Linked DNA regions of Homo sapiens. The protein of the gene in region 3 interacts with the protein of the main gene of each other region in a pairwise test. Each region holds a gene or a part of one and is shown on either strand. Other genes may lie near its edges.

The links. Proteins that work in one complex are often made in the same cells at the same time.
Region 1: the proteins of DCDC2 (region 3) and KRTAP5-9 interact in binary tests that used the Homo sapiens proteins (3 or more experiments, as listed by UniProt).
Region 2: the proteins of DCDC2 (region 3) and TOLLIP interact in binary tests that used the Homo sapiens proteins (3 or more experiments, as listed by UniProt).

Annotation. Positions count from the first base shown.
Region 1 is NC_000011.10:71,543,469-71,550,127, reverse strand, and holds KRTAP5-9 (keratin-associated protein 5-9), read right to left. Parts: upstream 1,709-6,659; 5' UTR 1,471-1,708; coding exon 961-1,470; 3' UTR 520-960; downstream 1-519.
Region 2 is NC_000011.10:1,299,614-1,306,637, forward strand, and holds part of TOLLIP (toll-interacting protein), read right to left. Parts: intron 3,178-7,024; exon of another isoform or gene 2,971-3,177; intron 400-2,970; exon of another isoform or gene 265-399; intron 1-264. UniProt on the Homo sapiens protein: Component of the signaling pathway of IL-1 and Toll-like receptors. Inhibits cell activation by microbial products. Recruits IRAK1 to the IL-1 receptor complex. Inhibits IRAK1 phosphorylation and kinase activity.
Region 3 is NC_000006.12:24,355,053-24,362,284, forward strand, and holds the start of DCDC2 (doublecortin domain-containing protein 2), read right to left. Parts: upstream 3,008-7,232; 5' UTR 2,699-3,007; coding exon 2,406-2,698; exon of another isoform or gene 1,851-2,405; intron 1-1,850. UniProt on the Homo sapiens protein: Protein that plays a role in the inhibition of canonical Wnt signaling pathway. May be involved in neuronal migration during development of the cerebral neocortex. Involved in the control of ciliogenesis and ciliary length.

The DNA of each region.
Region 1 (6,659 bases), on a different chromosome or scaffold from region 3:
CAGCCACACCGTCTTGGATCCTTGAAGCAGCACAGTTTCCAGTGTTGTCCTACAGAGCATCTCAGGGACACAGCTCATTCTAGTCTCGCTTCCCCATCTCCTGGCTTGACCCACAAACTGGGGACTGGCTGGACCCAGAGAGCACCCATTACATCCCTTCCTAGGCACTGAGGGCAAAGTTCTCCTTCTCTCCCAAACATATCCTCCCATGGGGAAGAAGTAGGAGTCCAAATTCCAACCAAGACAGACTGAATCCCACTGAGATACAGCTGGGACTCCCTGTGTACTAATGAGAGATACTCACTCATTCACTCATTCATTCCTCGTCTTCATTCATTCATACATACTGCTAGTGGTTCCTTCATTAATCAGTTCAACAACTGTTTCTGGAATGGGAGCTGGGCCTGGCACACTGTTACAGCAGTGGGAGCAATAAGCTATCAGGGAGGAGGGGAAGGACATGTGGCCAGTTTGCCAATGAGACAGAGGCTGGAAGAAAAGAGTCAGTGAGACCAAGGCTGAGGGATGGAGAATTTATTTAGTGCTGCACCCAGATGCATTTTGGATTTCCATAGATACATGTGATCATTTGGGTTGCAGGACATCCATCTGCAAATGTCGTGAAGCTCCTGGCAGGCAAAGGAAAGAAGGGTTTGCTGTCTCCCATGGAATTATCAAGAAGGGGAATTCCAGGCTCTTGCTTGGCATGAGGGCAGCCCCCAGTGCAGTTTGGCTCAGACATATGGGGGCATGTGGGAAAGAGGGGCAAAATTGCCTGGGTCTTGGGATATTCTTATAGGGAATGGGCAGGGAGTGGTTCATTCCATTTCCTCAGGGGCTGGAAAAAGACGCCCTGAGCCAAGGGCTCTTTTCAGATCCAGAAGGGGATGTGCTTCAAGGGTAGTCACTTGTTGGAAAGCACAGATCTTCAGGAGCTACCTGAGGTTTCCCACTAGAGCCTCAGATCTTGCACTGGTAGCACACAGGGACACAGCATCTGGACTGGGAGCAGCAGGGCTTGCAGCAGCTGGACTGGCAGCAGGATGACCCACAGCCTGAGGATGAGCAGCAGGGCTTGCAGCAGCTGGATTGGCAGCAGGATGACCCACGACCCGAGGAGGAGCAACAGGGCTTACAGCAGCTGCACTGGGAGCAGTAGGGCTTGCAGCAGCTGCACTGGCAGCAGGATGACCCACAGCCTGAAGAGCAACAGCAGGGCTTGCAGCAACTGCACTGGGAGCAGCCACAAGAACCACAGCCTCCCTTGGAGCCCCCACAGGAGCCACAGCCCCGCTTGCCACAGCTAGAGCAGGAACAGGCTGGAACACAGCAGCACACGGGCTTGCAGCAGTAGACGGGTGCACAGCAGCTGGGGCCACAGCCCCTGCAGCCAGAGCCACAGCTCCCACAGCTGGAGTCACAGCCTCCACAGCTGGAGCCACAGCCTCCGGAGCAGCCACAGCAGCCCATGGTTCTGGTGGATTGAGGGTGGAGCAGGTAGAGGAGCAGGTGAGAAGGAGGTGCAGGTGTGGAGCCCCCTGAGCCCCGGCTCTTTATATCCCACATAGGAACACACCATTGTTTCTCTTTCCGGTTGCTGTTACACAGCTCCTGGAGGTATGTCTTGATTGTTTTTCTTTGGCTATGTTGATATTTTCTGGATCCAAGTATGAGCCCTTCCTCCTGAGATGATTTCCTTGTGGAATTCATACTGAAAGGAAAAACAGCTCCAACGCTGGCTCACCTCAGGAGGAAGTGCAGCTTCCTCAAGGTCTGTCCCAGTTCCTAACTCTTATTCTTCCTGGGCCTTTGAGCAGATCCAGTCAGCTCCCGAGCCCCAGCTTCTTCTCCTGCAGAGGGGTGCTAGCAACACCAGCCTCCGGGGGTTGCCTGAGAATTACCTGAGATCATTCATGTATTGCGTCTTTTGCAACACCCCAACTCCCCATCCCCCATGCTCATGCAGGGTTCCGTCTTGGCAGGACTGGGTCAATGTTGTGGGTTTTTGACGTTTGATGCTGTGAGACGCCCTCCCTCCCCAGAGCAGTGCCACTCTCTACCTGATTCCTGCTGATTCCCCCAGGGATGTGGTATCTTCTCTGTGGCAACTGTGGCTGAGGATGGCAGGGTTCTCAGCAGTGGGGAAGGAGGCATCCTCTGTCTACCTCCTCCCTATTCCTGGACCAGGAATAGGCCAGGGCAATGGGCTCTGTGATTACAGAAGGGAATTTCACACAGCATGGTCCTTGGGGACACGTGAGCAGAGCTTCCCGCTGCTTTGAAACTATTGTCTGGACAGGTTCTTCTCTTGGAGGAAAACAAAGCTTGGAGCAGAACTTGGAGGGTGGTAGGGGGACCATGATGGGTACAAAGAGCAGCCAAGAGACAGGAAGGATACTCCAGCTAGGAGGCAGGGCACCAGCAATGGTGTGGAGGCTGCAGGTGCAGGAACCCATCGGTACGGTCCACACTCAGATGCGGTTAAAATGTGTGATGAGTGGATGTGCAGGCTTACGACATTCCAGTGTGCCTCAGCTGACTTGGGGTGAAATCCAAACCCCTGACACTGGCCCCATCCACCTCTCCAGCTGGATTTGACCGTGGCCTTGGCCACCCATCGTTGCAGAACCAATCAGCCCAAAGCTCAGTGGATCAGTAGTTCAGATCCGGCACTGGATGGTGGCACAGGCCGCATGATTTGTGGGGTCTCAATTGGGAAGGTACCAATGGCTAACGATGGCAGCATGGCTTGGCTGGGCTGTATTTTGGGACCTCAGTTCCGGCTGTCTGCAGGGTTCCTTGGTTTTTCTGTAAATTATGTCAGCTGGGGCTGGCTTGTCCAAGATGCTGTGTTCACACACCTATGGGATGGCTACAACAGGTGAGGCCGGACAGATCTCCCTCCCCTCCCCCACCTCACGGCCTCTTCCCACGGCTGGCTTGGGCTTCCTCACAGCATGGTGGGCTCAGGGCAGCTGTACTTCCTAGGAGGTCACTCGAGCAGAGGCTAGAAGGTGCCTTATGACCCAGCCTAGGAATCCTAGAGTATTTCTCCCTCCTCAAGTCACTGAGGCCAGCCCAGATTGCAGAGAGAAGAGAAAGTCCACCTCTCCGTGGGAGGAGAATGACTTGGTGTCATCTTCAGACTGCCTCAATCATTCTTCATCCAGCCCTGGATTGGTGCCGGGGCCACACCGCACTCCTCCTTACGACCTGTGTGCTGGCAGTTCCTTACATGGAACAGACTCACCCAGGACCGCCCTGGACTGCGTCCCTCCTGTCTGCCCAACTCAGATCCACCTCTGACACCCCGTCCCGAGATAGCTACCCCCACCACCTTGCACTTTCTGTTTCATTTATTGATTCCCACGATGCCAAGCTGGCTCTGCTCTCATCCTTGTTTGTTCTTAGAGGTGTGTGTCCCACTCCAGGGGGGTGTGAGTTCTGAAGGGGCAGCGACTTTATCCCACACGCAGCCATGTAGCTGTGTCACCAACACCTGGACATGCTCCATCATCGTCATTGAGAGAGGGAGGTGTTAACTGAAGAAGGACGAGGTCGTCAATTTGGAAAGGAGCGCTTTACTTCTCATAAAGTGCTGCGGGCTGAGTGTGGCTGTTCTGACTGGTTGGGAGGCGCAGCCTCTGGTAGGAAGCTGGAAACAGACACTTGGAGGGAGGGAAGAATAAAGCAGAGATCTACACTGAGTGGGGGTGGCTGAATATGCATATTCAATAAGCTGTGGGAGGGACATGAATATTGATAAGAGGAGAAACTGAGACATGAGGCCAGCTGGACTTCTTGGGTCCCGTGGGGACTTGGGGAACTTTTCTGTCTTACAAGAGGATTGTAAAATGCACCAATCAGGAACTTTCCTGTCTTGCAAGAGGATTGTAAAACACACCAATCTGCACAGGATTCTGAAAGTAGCCAATCGCAGGGAGGATTGAAAAAAAGGCACTCTGATAGGACAGAAACGGAACATGGGCGGGGCCAATAGGGGAATAAAAGCTGGCCACACAGCCAGCAGCGGCAACCCACTCGGGTCTACTTCCACGCTGTGGAAGCTTTGTCCTTTCGCGAATAAACAATAAACCTTGCTGCCACTGACTCTTTGGGTCTGTGCCATCTTTAAGAGCTGTAACACTCACTGCGAAGGTCCGTGAAAGTCCATGGGTGCATTCTTGAAGTCAGCGAGACCACGAACCCACCAGCAGGAACCAACTGCAGACCCAAAACCAGGCATATGCGCAATCCAGCTTCACCCCCTCTCTATGTGCAAAAACCAGAGGTGTTAGCCTGATCTGAGGGTGGAGCTTTTGGCCCTCTGATGTCAAAAGGTGAAGCAGCGGACTCAGAAGACTTCCTTGCGCCTCTTCCGTAGAATGGCCAGGGCCTCTCCGTGGTGGATCTCCTATCAAGAAGGAGGGGGCAATGTCAGGGGTACACTGATCTCCTCAGTGCAGTCTCCACAGAATTGGTTTCTGTTTTCCCTGAGGGGAGGGAGCTGGGTCATGGCTGGCCAGGGAGTAGGAGAAGGGCGCAAGTCCAGCTTCCCATCCCCCCGTAGCCAGGAACTCAGCTTCCAAGGTTTCCCGGTTAACCAAACATAACATTCTAAGACCTCCTCCCCGACCATCTGAATGGACTTCCTCCTCAGCCAGGGCTGTTTTAAAATTTAACCTGAGACACTATGATGGGCAGTGGGGGTCAGACATGCCTCATTCTACCTCTCTGGCATTAACATCCACACAGACTTTAAGTCCGATAACAAACGTCTCACAACCTCTTCTCTCTGAAGCCTGCTACCTAAAGGCTTCCTCTGCAAATAACAACCTGGGTCTCCATGATCCTTTATCCTAACCCAGACATTCCTTTCTGTTGATCCCAGGTCTTTAGACAAGCTCAACCAACTGTCAACCGGAAAATTTTTACATCTACCTATAGCCTGGAAGCACTCCCCACCCTTCAAGTTGTCCCACTTTTCTGGACCAAACCAATGTAATGTCGACAAAAAGAGTCAAACTCTGTAAAATATTTGAAGAGAGATTTATTCTGGGCCCAATATGAGTGACCATGGCCTGAGACACAACCCTCAGGAGGTCCTGAGAACATGGGCCCAAGGTGGTCATGGTACAGCTTGGTTTTACACATTTTAGGGAGGCAGGAGACATCAATCAAATACATTTCAAAATTACATTGGTTTGGTCCAGAAAGGCGGGACAACTCAAAGCGGGTGGTGGGGGATGGGGGGTGAGGGGGTTCCAGGCTATAGGTAAATTTAAACATTTTCTGGTTCACGGTTGGTTGAGTTTGTCTAAAGACCTGGGATGGATAGGAAGGGAAAGTTCAAGTTAAGATAAAGATTGTGGAGACCAAAGTTCTTTTGAAGTCTGATAGTGGCTGCCCTTAGAGACAATAGATGACAAATGTTTCCTATTCAGACCTTAGTTAATCTCTTTAGGACTGGGAGGGTCTGGAAGAAAAAGATCTAGCTATGTTAATAGAGATTCTTTGCAGATCCAAATTTTCCCCCACAAAGGACGCTCTGCAGGGCCATTTCAAAATACAGCAAAGAAACATGTTTTGGGGTAAAGTATTTTGATTTTCTTCCTTGTCTCATAATGTTATGCCAGAGTCGGGTTGGAAAGTAAGTCACAATATTTAGGGCTAAACAAAACCTGTCTGTTGAGAGTTTATGATTTGTAGGGCATGCGCAGACCCCTTAGATAGGAATTTGAGCAAGATTAAAAAAAACAACAACAGAGTTTAGGCCTTAGTATTTCTTAAATGTATTTGATTAAAGTCTCATGTCTCCCTAAAATATATAAAACCAAGCTGCACCCCAAACCTCTTGGGCACCTGCTCTCAGGACCTCCTGAGGGCTGTGTCACGGGCCATTTGTCAGTCATGTTCGGCTCAGAATCTTTTAAAATATTTTACAGAGTTTGACACTTTTTGTCGACACCCCCTTGGCCAAGAGGGGTCCCGTTCAGTCAGTGGTTGCGGGGGCGAGGCTAGGATTTCCTTCCTATTTCTCAGGGGAAGGCTCTTGCTTCTGCCTGCTGCTCACGTGTTGAGTGAGTTCCTCTGGTTGGCAGCTGGGCTTGAAACCGCCTTTGCAAAGTTATGACTGAGACAGTGAGAGATCTAACTTAGCCCACTCCACCTTGCTTCTAATCTCCAAGCTGTCCTTGTTCATTCCTGGGTGTTGGCTGAACTAACTTTGGGAGAAATTTAGTTGGTAGTTTATAGTTTAAACAAAGACAGTAACAACCCTTTCCCAAAGCAGACCACCTTCTTGCCTGGGGACTAGACTAACATTAGCCACAAGATTAGAAATTACAGTTTAGGAGTCATGTAGCCAGAGGTCATTTACAAGATTCTGACCCTCCCTGCACTTGATGGATCAGGTAGCACCACCCAGATCAATAAACTGGCTCATCTGATCTTGTGGCCCCCACCCAGGAACTGACTCAGTGCAAGAAGATGGCTTCGACTCCTTGTGATTTCATCCCTGACCAATCAGCACTCCTGGATCACTGGCTTCTCCCCACCCACCAAGTTGCCCTTAAAAACTCTGCTCCCCAAATGCTCAGGGAGACTGATCTGAGTAATAATAAAACTCCGGTCTCAGGCACAGCCAGCTCTGTGTGAAT
Region 2 (7,024 bases), on a different chromosome or scaffold from region 3:
AAAACAAAAATGATTACTCCCGATACATAATGGATATTTTTCTAGAATTTTGCTTCCATGTACAAGATGCACATACTGAGTTCAACACTAACAAGTCTAAATGCCCGTGTGAAGGCCAACAATTCCACTTCAGGAGCCAGTCCCCTGTCAATGCTCACTCGGGCACGTGAGCACAGGATGCCTGAGGCTGCGTCACCTGTGCCGTCAAAACGCCCCGTCCACCAGCCAGGCACATCCACCCAGCGCATCGCCACGCGGCCTCACCAGGAGCCGGCGGTCCCTGCCGCGAACACATGGAGACTCGGGGGACGGAGGCGGAGGCGGAGGTGCGGCACGACCTGCTGCAGGGAGCCATAAGGAGGCCTCTGTCGACACCAACTCTGGAGGAGCATTCAGGAATGGAACTCGAGGGAAACAGGCAGGGAAGATTCTATTTCAATTTATTTATACTTTTATATCCTGCTAGTTATTTTTAGAAACTTTTTAAAAACATTCGTGAATTACTTTTAAAATAAAAAGGACAGGGTAGGGCTCTCATCCCACAGAGCTCACAGCATTTTATCTTCTCTGAAAATAAAAGCTACTTTTATAAATATTAGTCTGTTTTAAATATAGTTTTAAAATGTAACTTCAAATTTCTTGGAATTGCTGATTCTCCTCCCCCATGTGCCGCTCTCAGAGGATCACGACGCAAGCCTGTGACTGACGACCATTCCTCCCTCACTGACGCCAGAGCTCTAAACCACTGCAGCGTACCTTTCCACACGAAAGAAAAGAGGTCTCCAACATTCACTTCTATTTAAAACAATTTCTCTTCAAGTCTAAGTTTTAGTTTTGGCACAGAAATAAAGTCTTAATTCTTCTTTTTTGTCATGCAATGTGTGTAGTCAATCCAAAGCTAATTTTTCTTTTTAAGCACACAAATTAAACACCCACTGTGAATATTCCTGTTGGTGACACGTCTCCAACGGAGAGAGCCGCTGCTTCCTTGGGCCACACTTTCTGCCCGACACCTGTTAGGAATACGTTTCCGACTGAGAGTGCCGCTGCTTCCTTGGGCCACACTTTCTGCCTTGACAGAGCCCCGGAAGAGCCCAGCTCAGCCCAGGACGTGGAGTCCTGAACACATGCAGTCCTGGCCTCACGCCTGCCAGGAGACATCACCCCAAGGAGCCGCACCACAGTCGCCCCTGAAGCACGGCTGGCCACACGCAGGCGGCAGGAGACCAGGGTTTCCTGGCCACTTCCATGACTGGCCCCCTGCGGAGCCTTTTTAAACCTTCTCACCGTTCCCACCCCATGACGCTGCGAGGCTGTGGAGGTGCTGTTTGTGTCTGTGTGCCACGCATGCACCTGCACTTGGCATGTAAACACTGCAAGCAAGGCTCAACGAGTCTCAGCGCTAACGCCAGGTTAGCATAACTAAGTCGAACGAAGTTCAATTAAAAACTAAAATGCTTCTAGCACTTCATGACTATGCGCTGAGCAGCGCTGAGTGTAATTTATTTACATAAATTGTAATGTATCAAATCACACGTAGAAATAAACAACTTATATAAACACAATAAAAAATATCCTTAGTGAACTGAAGCTTTTGCTTGATGTGAGAAAGTACCTTTTAACTGGCTGGCTGGTATTCTTTCAGCAAACTGACATCATTAGCGATGGGCTAAATACGTTCTGTGGAATTAAATCACAAAATGTCGACGATTCTCATTCAATTCTCCAAGCCAGAGTCTCACACCAGCACTGAGGATCCCACACAAACGGCATCCGCAGGCGCCTGCCCACCCTCCCCACCCACCTCACAGCAGGTCTGAGATCGCACATGTGTCGCGGGCTTCCGAGAACTCCGTATCCATGTGCTGGGACACCCAGAAAACCCAGGGACAATGAAATACTAAGGAGCAAGAAATCCAGGAGCTGTGCTGGGGAGGCACACACGGCCGCCAAACCCCAGAAGTTTCCTCCCCCAAGAACCCCTTGTGCCCTCTCAGGGTCAATATCACCCCCACATTGAGAACAAGCGTCAAGGACTCCTGAAGCCACAAAGCCAGCCCACGGAGGCCCCAACACAGAAGCCCAACTAGTGAAACTCTGTACCCTGAGCCCTAGGTTTCTCCAGTTCCTAACATGGCCATGATTCAACGTGACTTTCAGAGCTGGGACCCACAGCAGGAAGACCTGGGCTGGGCTCGTGGCTAAAGGGACAGAGGAAGCTAATGAAACAGAGAGAAATAAATCCCCCGTAGTAGGAACATCTAGGGATATGGGCGGAAGTCAGTCTCAAAGCCTCTTGGGCGAGGTCTGAGTGTCTGCTAGGAAGGGAGCCCCAGACTCGGTCAGGGCCCCAGGACTCACATAGAACAGCACAGTTGGTCCAGATGAAGCTGAGAACCTGGAGCCCAGGTCATCACCAGCCTCCCTGCTGTGTCTGAGGGGCTGGCCCTGCCTTGAAGGCCCTGCAAGGGGCCTGCTCCAGGCCACTGTCCTACAGGGGATGTCTGCTGCTAGGTTCACACCCAGGTCAGAGCTCAGTCTGGCCCAGGAGAAATGGCCCATCCACCCGATGCCCGCACACCTGTGTGATTCACATCCAGATCCGGGCGTGCAAGAGGGCGGGAACGCGCACCAGGGCTGAGACACAGGGCCGTGGGCAGTCAGGACAGACCCTGGGTGGCCCTGGCGGTCCCTCTGCCCAGCTGACTGACCCCTCAGTGCGCAGGGTTTCAGAGACTGAAGTGCCAGCCTGCACATGCCCCAGGCCTGCACACTCACGGCCAAGAGGGGAGCCCCGTGGAGGTGAAGGACTCACCGACACTCACTGGTGGCCACTGCCATTGCCCTGTAAGTTTAGCATTTTCCAAAATAAGGCTAGAAGGAAAACTGCAATTCCCCATGCCCACTCAGCTGCTGGCTCCCTCACCCACCACCCTTCACAGCACCAGCATCCAAAAGCTGGACCAGTACCTGACCCTGCAGCCCCTGGCACTCCAGCCAGCCTCGGCCTCACGCTCCACACCAGCCTCCTGACACTCCCCAAAACCCACTCCAGCCAGCCTCGGCCTCATGCTCCACGCCAGTCTCCTGGCACTGGCATGTTCAATAAACAACCCTTGAGCAAATAAGTGGCATTTCATGCAACTGCTCTTGGCAAGGCAGCTCCCACGCCAGTGTGGACGGGCAGTGGTGACTTTGTCCCCAGTTCCCACATCCTCCTCCCACGGCCGCTCAGCAGCCCCCTCCCAGGAGCCCTCGCTGAGCACTCATTCGCCGTGCCTTGTCTCCCCTTCCGGGGCCTTCCTCAGACAGGGCTTTCCTTCCCTCTTCCTATCACCCCCTCCCCTCTTCCTTTAATTATACAAAACACAACAGGCGCTTCAAAGCCAACATGCCGGGAGGTTCCCTGGCTCTGCTAAAGTCTCAAAGCAAACACTAGAATTTGTGTAAGGGAAGCTGGGAGATGACAGTATTGAAACGAACCCGTGTAAGCTGAAGAGCGGTGAAAGGGAAGAGTACAGGACAGAATGAGAATAAGCATAGATTATAAAAGCTGACTACAGAACAAGCGACTTTAAATGGGGTCTCTGCCAGGAACTCCACTGCAGGCAGCCTTGCATCCTAAGTGCTGGGACGGTCAAGCAAGGCAGAGGCGGAAAACCCCTTCTCATTCAGATGAAACAAAAGCCAGTCAAGCAGCAGGCCAAGGGCGGACAGAGATCCAGAGAGGGACGGCATGTGACGTGGCAGGCCCTGGGCGCCGGGCACAGGGCGCGCGCTGCGGCAGCCTCTGCGTGTCACTGTGTGCCTGAGGCTTCCATGGTGAGGTGCTGGGGCACCCCTGCTCCTGGGATGCTTACACGTGAGTGGAAGAAGACAAACGGGAAGCATCATGAGTTATGCTGTATGCTAACGGCAGGAGGCGCTGTGCAAAGAAACAGGGCAAGGCCGGGTGGCAGGGGCACGCTGCACTTCCCACAGGGCAGCAAGGCAGGCCTCACCAGCACGGTGCCAGGGCAGGGCCCGCAGGATCTGGAGACAGTGACTCAGGGACAGGAAACACTTGCACAGCAGGCCTAACCAGGGGCCTGTCGGGCAGGTCAAGGGACAGTGTTAGAGGCCCAGATGAACAGAGGTTAGGGCCGGGTGCAGTGGCTCACGCCTGTAATCCCAAAACTTTGGGAGGCTGAGGTGGGCGGATCACTTGAGACCAGGAGTTCGAGAACAGCCTGGCCAACATGGTGAAACCCCATCTCTACTAAAAATACAAAAATTAGCTGGGCGTGGTGGTGGACGCCTGTAATCCCAGCTACTCGGGAGTCTGAGGCAGGAAAATCGCTTGAACCTGGGAGGAAGAGGTTGCAGTGAGTTGAGATTGTGCCACTGCACTCCAGCCTGGGCTACAGAGCGAGCCTCCATGTAAAAAAAAAAAAAAAAAAAAAGACCTCAAGTGAACTGGGAGGCAGGCCAGAAGCAGCGTATTCAGAAGGCAGCAAACAGAGGGCCAAAAACGAAGGAAAGCCGGAGGAAGGGACATCCACTCCCGGGCTGCTCAGCAGCCACTCCAGGAGCCAGGAGAGGGCGGGGTCCCACCTTCGAGGCACTGAGGACAAGTGACCGTCCACCGGGAGTACTGTCCACCTGGAGTACCGCCCACCTGGAGTTCCACACACACAAAAATAGCTGTCAGGACACAGAGAAAAGGCATGTACAAGCAAAAATCAAGTTTGCCAGCAAGGAAAATTCTAGATGAACCTGAAGCTAAAGGAAAGTGACCCCAAATGGAAGGCCCGAGACACCAGAAGGGATAAGAAAAGAGAAACACAGAAGGAAATCTAAACAAGCGCTGACTCGAGAGAAGTAACACATTCCTGCGGGAGCCCCAAGGGGAGGTAGCACCCACACAAGGCACAGCAGCACCCGCGCCAGGACGGGGCGGCCGAGGTCTCCGCGTGGATCCGGAGGTGGCACAGACAATGATTAACTTCTTCTTTATTTATTCTTTAGCCGGGCAGCCTCCGGAGCCAGAGTTCACTCAGAGACTCCCTCATGGCAGAAGCTGATAAGTGCATGTTACCATTTCCAGGGGAGCCCCTGTACTTTCCCAGCACAGTGTGTATGTACTTGAGATAAAACAACTGAATTTTTTAAAACTCCATTTAATAAATTCAAAAGGCAATGAGAGAAAAAAAATAAGAAAATGTAGGACAAATAAAAGCACCAAAGAAAACATGTAAAAAATCTGTAAATCTGTGTATCCATCTAGGCATCTCTTAACTAGAAAGATGAAACTAGCGCATTCCCATCAAAAGACTTAGTCTTCTTAGATTTGACTTTTTAAAAATCCAGCTACGTGCTATCGATGGTGCACGTGTCTTAAACAAAAGTTTTCAGAAAAATGTAAAATCATAGAAGGAAAAAGTACTAGGTGAATACTCTCTAAAAGACAGCTGGGGTGGCCATGCCAGTATCAGACAAAATAATCAAAGGCAAGAGGCCTTTATCTTCCAAGAGGCCCGTGGGTCCCCACACAGTGAAAAGATGTGATTTCCAGGCAAGCACAGCAATTCCACACCTGTACAGACTCACAACCCGGCCTAAAAAATCCAGCGCAAAGGTTCACAGGAACCCAGAGAGAAAGGACTCGTGAGGAGGCGGTGAGTGCGTTCCCCGCTGGCTCAGGTGCAGTCAGCAGGAACGGACGCCCTCCCAGGAGCAGCCCACCAGAGCCAGCGGAGACGGGTAAGTGCCACTGGCTCAGACACACAGGATGCAGGAAAATCCACGGGCTCTTCACAACACTCAGGGGAGAGAAAGCCCACACACATCTACAAAGAAAAGCAACTCTCTCCTTGAGGTACGGGAAGATGAGGGAAAAGCATCTCACTTGCCTTTCTTTCACGAATTGTGTTTCAGGACAGCCAGCCGACACCGGTTGATGGGGAAAGCTAATCTTTACAAACAATCCCAGTTAATAAACACCGAAGAAGTGATAAAGTTCAGAAACTACCCTCTGCCATCCCTAATGAAGTCACCGATTCGGCAGGAATTATCAACGATGTGAAGAGTGAGGGGACCTGGACAGGAACAGGCCTCTCAGGGAGGAAGGGAGGGGCCAGGCCGCCTCCAGCTGGACTCCATGGCCAACCAGCACCTCCAGAAGCAGGACAAGGAGTCAGAGCAGCCTGGACACGGCACAGCGCACCCACCTCTACCAAGGAGGCCTCTCTGACGGCACCGCGGTGGCTGCAGCGGAGTCTCCCGCAAACGTCCCGAGATCTCACTGCAGAAGGCAGGGGTCCACACGGTACTCCTCGATACTCCTCGCGGGGGCCCGCACGGTACCCCTCGCAGGGGCCCCCATGATACTCCTCACAGGGGTCCACACAGTACCCCTCGCAGGGGCCCCCACGGTACCCCTCGCAGGGGTCCACATGGTACTCCTTGCAGGTACTCACCCATGCTTTCTGATAATATGCAGACTATATTGAAAAAAGGTTATCTTTCCAAAATACTGGCCTTTTTGAAACGTGAGGGAAGCACTGCACAGGGCTGAAGCATCCCTTAGTGGCTATTCAGGGAACCATTATCCTGAAGATCTAAACACGGTATGATTCTCTCAGAACGATGTCGGGCTGGCTAGCTTCACACGTCCTCTCCACACCTACCCACCCGGGCCCCTGAAGCTCCCTCTACCCAAGGACAAAAGAACCCTCCCAGGACCCCATTAGCGGCCCCTCTGCTCCTTCACGGCCCATGGGATCTTGCCGTCTCCCCTTATCACTAGGGGGAGGCAACGGCTAGACCACAGTCAGGGTCTCCCGAGCCAGAGTCCTGCCCCCGGACCCTGGGGAGCATCTCTTTCTGCTGGAAAGCTGAGCGAGCGCCCTGCTTAACCTCCTGCCTCTCTGGCACCACAGGTGTAACAGAAAGAGGACATGATAAATACTGTGTCAAGACATCCTGCAAAAGCAGGGCTCCTCTAGGTGCTAGTAACTGGGTAAAGGCCCACTATGGGTTAATT
Region 3 (7,232 bases):
TTCAAATATATTCAACATTCAAGTATTCTTGGCTTCTATCATTATAACCGTAGATACTACTTCTTTAACACAAATAAAATAGTCATCTGTCAGCATGGAAACCTAACCATGGACACTGTTATAACAAATTCAGTTTTTTGTGTATGAACTGAAAGCAAAAATAACATGCAAATCTCTTAGAGAGACTTGAGTACACTTTTTTATTTGGTGTGGAACTGTACCTTTTTTTTTTAATCTTGTGAGTTGGTAGGATCAAATAAACAAAAGAACATGAACTATAAAAGTGAGTCTACAATTTTCAGCCGTTCAGAGATTCTGAACCAGACTTTCATTTCCACGAAATTGCTTTAGACGGAAATATTTAATAAAAAATAAAGTATGTAACAAAAGGAACTGGTCATAGAGGTGTCTTATATTTATGTAACACTTTGGTGTTTACAAAACACACATCTATAGCATTTACTTTTTATCACAGCCCTGTGTGGTACAAATGATTATGCACCTTTTCTGTATTAAGAAACTGATTAGCTGAGTCAAGCGACTTGCCCAAGGACACAGAGCTGATGAGCAACTCAGTCTTCAGTCTCCTGGTTTTAAGTTTCCTTTAAGCATGCAATTTCATTTAGCCCTTTTTTACGAAGTTTAACAAAGCATGCTTAAGAAGCTTCAGGGGAGGGAAAAATAAATCCAAATATATCCCTCACTTTCCATGAAAAGAATGTCTGACGTAACAAAAAGTATAATAGAATACCTAGAACTCAATTTAAACAAATATAGGAGAAGAAGGATTACATTCAAGAATTTTAGTGATATTTTGAAAAATATTTCTATGTAGTTATAAGACTTTATTTGAATTTTAATTATTAAGAATCCAATAATGCTTATGAATTCATAAGCTTAGATTTATGGTCAAGGCTTTTTTCTATCCTGGGGCCCAAGATGAATTTCAATTAAAATGTTCTATTAAACTATGGAATACAGAGTTACCATGTGATCCAGCAATTTCACTCTTAGGTATACACCAAAGAGAAATGAAAACTTGTACACAAATATTCATAGATGCATTATTCATAATAGTTAAAATGTGAAACAACCCAAATATACATCAAACTGATAAATGGATAAGCATGGATATAAAAGGTAATATACCCAAATCATGGAATGTTATTCAACAATAAAAAGAATGAAGTATTGATGTATGATACAACATGGATGAACCTTGAAAATGTTACAGTAAGTGAAATAAGCCAGACATAAAGACCATATACCGTATGATTCCATTTATATGATATGTCCAGAATAGACAAATCCATAGATTCAGAAAATAGATTAGTGGTTTCCAGATGACAGGGGACAGAGGAAACTGGGAGGTACAAATGTTTTGGCGGGAGGGGTGGAAATGAACTACAATTAGTTGGTGGTGATGGTTGCACAACTCTGAATACACTGAAAGCCAATGAAATGGTTGGACTTCATGCCATGAGAAATCTATCTCAATAAAGCTGTAAAAAAAAAATGGAATGTAAAATTCTACCTGTCCTATAATGACCACCCCAACCAACTCTCAACTCACAATTCCCACATAACTTTATTTTTCTATGCACATATCCCTTTGTAGCTTGCATTAAAATTGTTAGTGTGCAGGTAGTCCAGTTAGACTGAAAGCTCCTAAAGACAAGGAATCATGCCTTGCTCATCTTTGTTCCCTGAACTGACGGTTTCTTAATTCACTGAACACTCACTATGAGTGAGCTCAAGAGCTGGGAATAAGGACCCCTGCCCTTGAAGGTCTAATCACGTTGCTGGAGACAGACAGTCGACAAATACAGTCAGCCAGTAAACTCTTCCTGCATTATGCTAACAGCATAAACATGCAGGGGGTGGGAGCAGGGTCACAAAAGTGAGTGTTGTCAATTCTACTTGGAATGAAAGGTTGAAATAATTTAAACAGTACGGGAAATGCAGAGCAATTTTCTCCTCTGGTGACAATATAGTGTCCAACACTTGGAAGTGATTTTTAAGAATGTTTATTTAAATTAAAAGGATGGATTTCCAAGGAAAAAAAATAAGGAAAAGGAAAGAAAAAACTGAACAGAAAACGCAAAAGTATCAGTTTGGTCACTAACCTTTGCAAGGATACCTTTTTATTTTCTTTAAGATTCCTGTTGTTTATACACAGATTTTAAGTTTACTCCTACTGCTGACCCAAGTGAAATTCCTTCTCCAGTCACAGTGTCAACCTCTACCCCCCAACTGCAACGAGAGTTTTGAGGGGCATCAATCACACCGAGAAGTCACAGCCCCTCAACCACTGAGGTGTGGGGGGGTAGGGATCTGCATTTCTTCATATCAACCCCACACTATAGGGCACCTAAATGGGTGGGCGGTGGGGGAGACCGACTCACTTGAGTTTCTTGAAGGCTTCCTGGCCTCCAGCCACGTAATTGCCCCCGCTCTGGATCTGGTCTAGCTTCCGGATTCGGTGGCCAGTCCGCGGGGTGTAGATGTTCCTGACGGCCCCAAAGGGTGCCTGAACGCCGCCGGTCACCTCCTTCAGGAAGACTTCGAAGCTGGACACCTTCTTCTCATGGATGACGACGCGGCGCCCCGCGTAGAAGGGGTCCCCGTTGCGGTACACAAGCACGCTCTTCACGACGGGCTGAGACAGGTGGCTGGACCTGGCGCTGCTGCCGCTCATCTTCCCCGCTGGCCGCCGCCTCAGCTCGCTGCTTCGCGTCGGGAGGCACCTCCGCTGTCCCAGCGGCCTCACCGCACCCAGGGCGCGGGATCGCCTCCTGAAACGAACGAGAAACTGACGAATCCACAGGTGAAAGAGAAGTAACGGCCGTGCGCCTAGGCGTCCACCCAGAGGAGACACTAGGAGCTTGCAGGACTCGGAGTAGACGCTCAAGTTTTTCACCGTGGCGTGCACAGCCAATCAGGACCCGCAGTGCGCGCACCACACCAGGTTCACCTGCTACGGGCAGAATCAAGGTGGACAGCTTCTGAGCAGGAGCCGGAAACGCGCGGGGCCTTCAAACAGGCACGCCTAGTGAGGGCAGGAGAGAGGAGGACGCACACACACACACACACACAAATATGGTGAAACCCAATTTCTTACATCATATCTGTGCTACCCTTTCCAAACAGCCTAATTTTTCTTTTCTCTCTTCTTGCACCTTTACCCCTCAATCTCCTGCTTGCTCCCAAATTAAAGCAATTAAGTTCCTGGATGTAGTTGCCCAGGTTTTTCTTTGCTGGAAGATAAATGTGCAAAGCCAGATGCGGTGGCTTACGCCTGCAAATTCCAGTACTTTGAGGGGCCCAGGCGGGAGGGCTGCCTAAGACCAGGAGTTCTAGACCAGCCTGGGAAACACAGGGAAAGCCCCCGTCTCTATAACGCGCCTGTGATCCCCTGAGGCAAGGAGTTTGAGACCAGCCTGACCCGGTCTCTACAATTAAAAAAAAAAAAAAAAAAAAAAAGTAGGTGGGCAGGGTATTCGCCTGTGGACCCAGCTATCTCGGAGGCTGAGGCGGGAGGATTGTTTGAGCCCAGGAGGTCGAGGCTGCAGTAACCTATGATTTTGCCACTGCACTCCAGCCTGGGCGACACAGCAAGACCCTGTCTTAGAAAATAAAATATATATTTTTTTTATATATATATTTTATATATTTTATTTTATATATATTTTATTTATTTATTTATATATTATATATTTTTATATATAATATATAAAATATATATTTTATATATTATATATAAATATATATATTATATTTATATATATATTTATATATTATATATAATATATATAATATATATGTATTATATATATTTATATATATAATATATTATATATTATATATATTATATATTATATATTTTATATATTATATATTATATATTATATATTATATATTTTATACATTATATATTATATATTATATATTTTATATATTATATATTTTATATTTTATATTTTATATATATTATATATTTTATATATCATATATATTATATATCATATATTTTTATATATTATATATTTTATATATTATATATTATATATATTATATATTTTATATATATTATATATTTTATATATTTTATATATTTTATATATATTTTATATATTTTATATATTATATATATTTTATATATTATATATTTTATATATTTTATATATTTTATATATTATATATAATATATATTTTATATTTTATATATATTATATATTTTATATTTTTTATATATATTATATATTTTATATTTTTATATATATTATATATTATATATATTTTATGTATATTATATATTATATATATTTTATATATTATATATTATATATATTTTATATATTATATATTATATATATTTATATATACTATATAGTATATATATTTATATATACTATATAATATATATTTTATATATAATATATTATATATATTTTATATATTATATATATTTTATATATATTTTTTATATATTTTATATATATTATATATTTTTATATATATATTTTATATATATTATATATATTCAGAGAGAGAAAGAGAGAATCCGGGTACCGTGACTCATGCCTGTAACCCCAGCACTTTGGGAAACTGAGGCAGGAGGCTCACTTGAGCCCGGGAGTTTGAGACCAACCTGAGCAGCACAGCAAGACCCCATCCCGGAAGGAGGGAGGGAAGGAAGGAAGGGAAAAATAACATTTAAGTGAATGAATGAATGAATGAGAAACAGAGCGAAGACTCGCGTGTCTAGGACCCCTAACCCCCTCCCCGATGATCAGCGCCGCCTGGCGGCGAAGCTCGGGTGCGCATCACGTGAAGACAGCAGGCAGCGCGCAAGCGGGGCCCTGGTTGGGGAGGCGGGCCCAGGAGGTGCCCTCCGCCGTAGTACCTACCGACACTCGCGTGCTGGAGAGGGGAGGGGAGCTCGGGCGCCGGCCGCGCGGGGGCGGGGCGGTGCGGCTCGGGTGGCACAGTGGTGAACTCTGCGGCGGCTGCGCGCCGCTCACGCTGTTCCTCCAGCTGCTGTTACCTCTGCGGGCCTCTCTCACCCAAGGGGAACGGAGTTGTTATTTCCCGCTGTTTCCATAGCAACCGCAGCCTCGCGCGGGGAGCGAGTCAGTGAACCAGGCCTGGCTTGCGCCTGGCTCCTTGGGATATGCTGGCTGCGTGGGGCAGAGGCGGAAGAACAGGGGTTTGGAGGAAGAGGGAGAAACAGGTGACATGATCATGCGCTCATTCATCATGCGCTCATTCAGTAAATGGACGCCTGCTGTGTGCAAGGCCCTGTGCTAGTTGGGGCCACGGCGGTGAAAAGGAAAACCTACAAAATTTTGAGTGCCTACCCTGTGCCAAGCTTTACGCCAGGGAAAGGATTTTTTCACTGCCGCAAGAAGGCTAAATGTCTGACTGGCTGTCCAAGAGCCCACATCTGTGCTATTTGTGTAGATTGTTAGCTCTGTCTGAGGAATAACAGGGAGAGGAGTTGTGAGAATAGTAACAGCCCCAGTAAAGAGTCGCTTTGTCCAGTCCAGTCTGGGACATACATATTGTGGCACCAGGAAAATGTTTAAAGAGTTGAAATTTTGCAGCTCATCTCTGCCAGTGTTTCCTTCATTCCTCCTAAGACTTTTCTACCATGTGTCATGTCCAAATTACTGGGTGTTCCTAACTCATCATGTACGAATAAAAAGAACTGCCATTAATTGAACACTATAACCATGGACCAGGCATTATGTAAGGCACTTTATGTAGATTATCTAATATTCACAATAACCTTCAGAGGTAAATATTATTCTTTCCTCAGATGAGGAAACTGAAGGGTAGAGAAATCAAAGACATTTACCTCAGGTCACACACACAGGAATTCAAACCCATTCTAAGGATTAGAAAACGAAAGAGAGAGAGAGAGTTCAAACCCAGTTCTGTCTTATTCCACAAGCTCCATAACCAGTCATATCACTGTGAAAGATGAATGTGTGGGACATTGCAATCTGGAGAGAAACTTTTTTTTTCCTTCGAGATTTCTGTTCTGAAGAAATATTTTTATTAAAGCCATGTAATACATTAATGCTTTGAAAGTTAACAGTTTTCAAACGCAGGAACAAAAAACCAAATACCCGCATGTTCTCACATATAAGTAGGAGTTAAATGAGGAGAACTCACGGACACAAAGAAGGGAACAACAGATACTGGGGCCTACTTGAGGGTGGAGCGTGGGAGGAGGGAGAGGAGCAGAAAAAATAACTGTTGAGTATCAGGCTTAGTACCTGGGTGATGAAATAATCTGTACAACAAACCTCCGTGACACGAGTTACCTATATAACAAATCTGCACATGTACCCCTGAACCTAAAATGAAAGTTAAAAAAAAAAAAAGTTAACAAATTTCAAAAGAAGGCCAAAGAGAACAATACAGGGAGGAAATAGACAAGGGAAATTTTGTGAGCTGCTTGTGGAGAATGCACAGGTTGAGGGATGGATGGGGAAAATACCTGTGAAAATGTGCTACCACATAGGTGAGTAAGACAGAATACTTGTTATGTGGAAATGGAAGGCAATCAATTAAGTAGCCCCCTCCCCAAACAACCTAAAATTCCCTATCATCTATATTAGCCCAGTGTAAAATGAAAATGTGGCCTCTTATTCAAAAATTAAGAATTTTATGTTAGCAACAGCAGAGCATTAAACCAATCATGGGGTCCTTCTTGATGTGGGGACCCTGACGCCAGCCCATGAAGCTGCCCGCATCAAGTCTATGCCTCCCACTGCGGTATCTCCAACCCGGATGTGTCTCCTGAGCTTAGATTCATTTATCCAGATGTCTCTTGGATATGATGTGGTGATAAGTGTTTAACTGCTGGCTTTTAGGAGGGAAGAGAAGGCCTTAATTCATAGCATTTGCCAATCTCTGTAGTTTACTCCAAATATGGCCAATTTCCAGATGCCAGTCTAACATCACTGAAGCCATGAAATGTGCAGTAGCAAGTCATTGTATGGTATTTCCACCATGCAGGCACAGCAGACTTGTGTAACTTTAAGAGCACAGATAGTAGTAAAATGTAGATGGAGATGAGTTTTGAGTATTTATTATCTTTGTTTTCAATGTAATTTATTTAATTGTATATTTATACAATTATTTTTTATTTAATTGCATATTTATACAATTTTTATTTAATTGTATATTTATACAATTATTTTTTATTTAATTGTATGTTT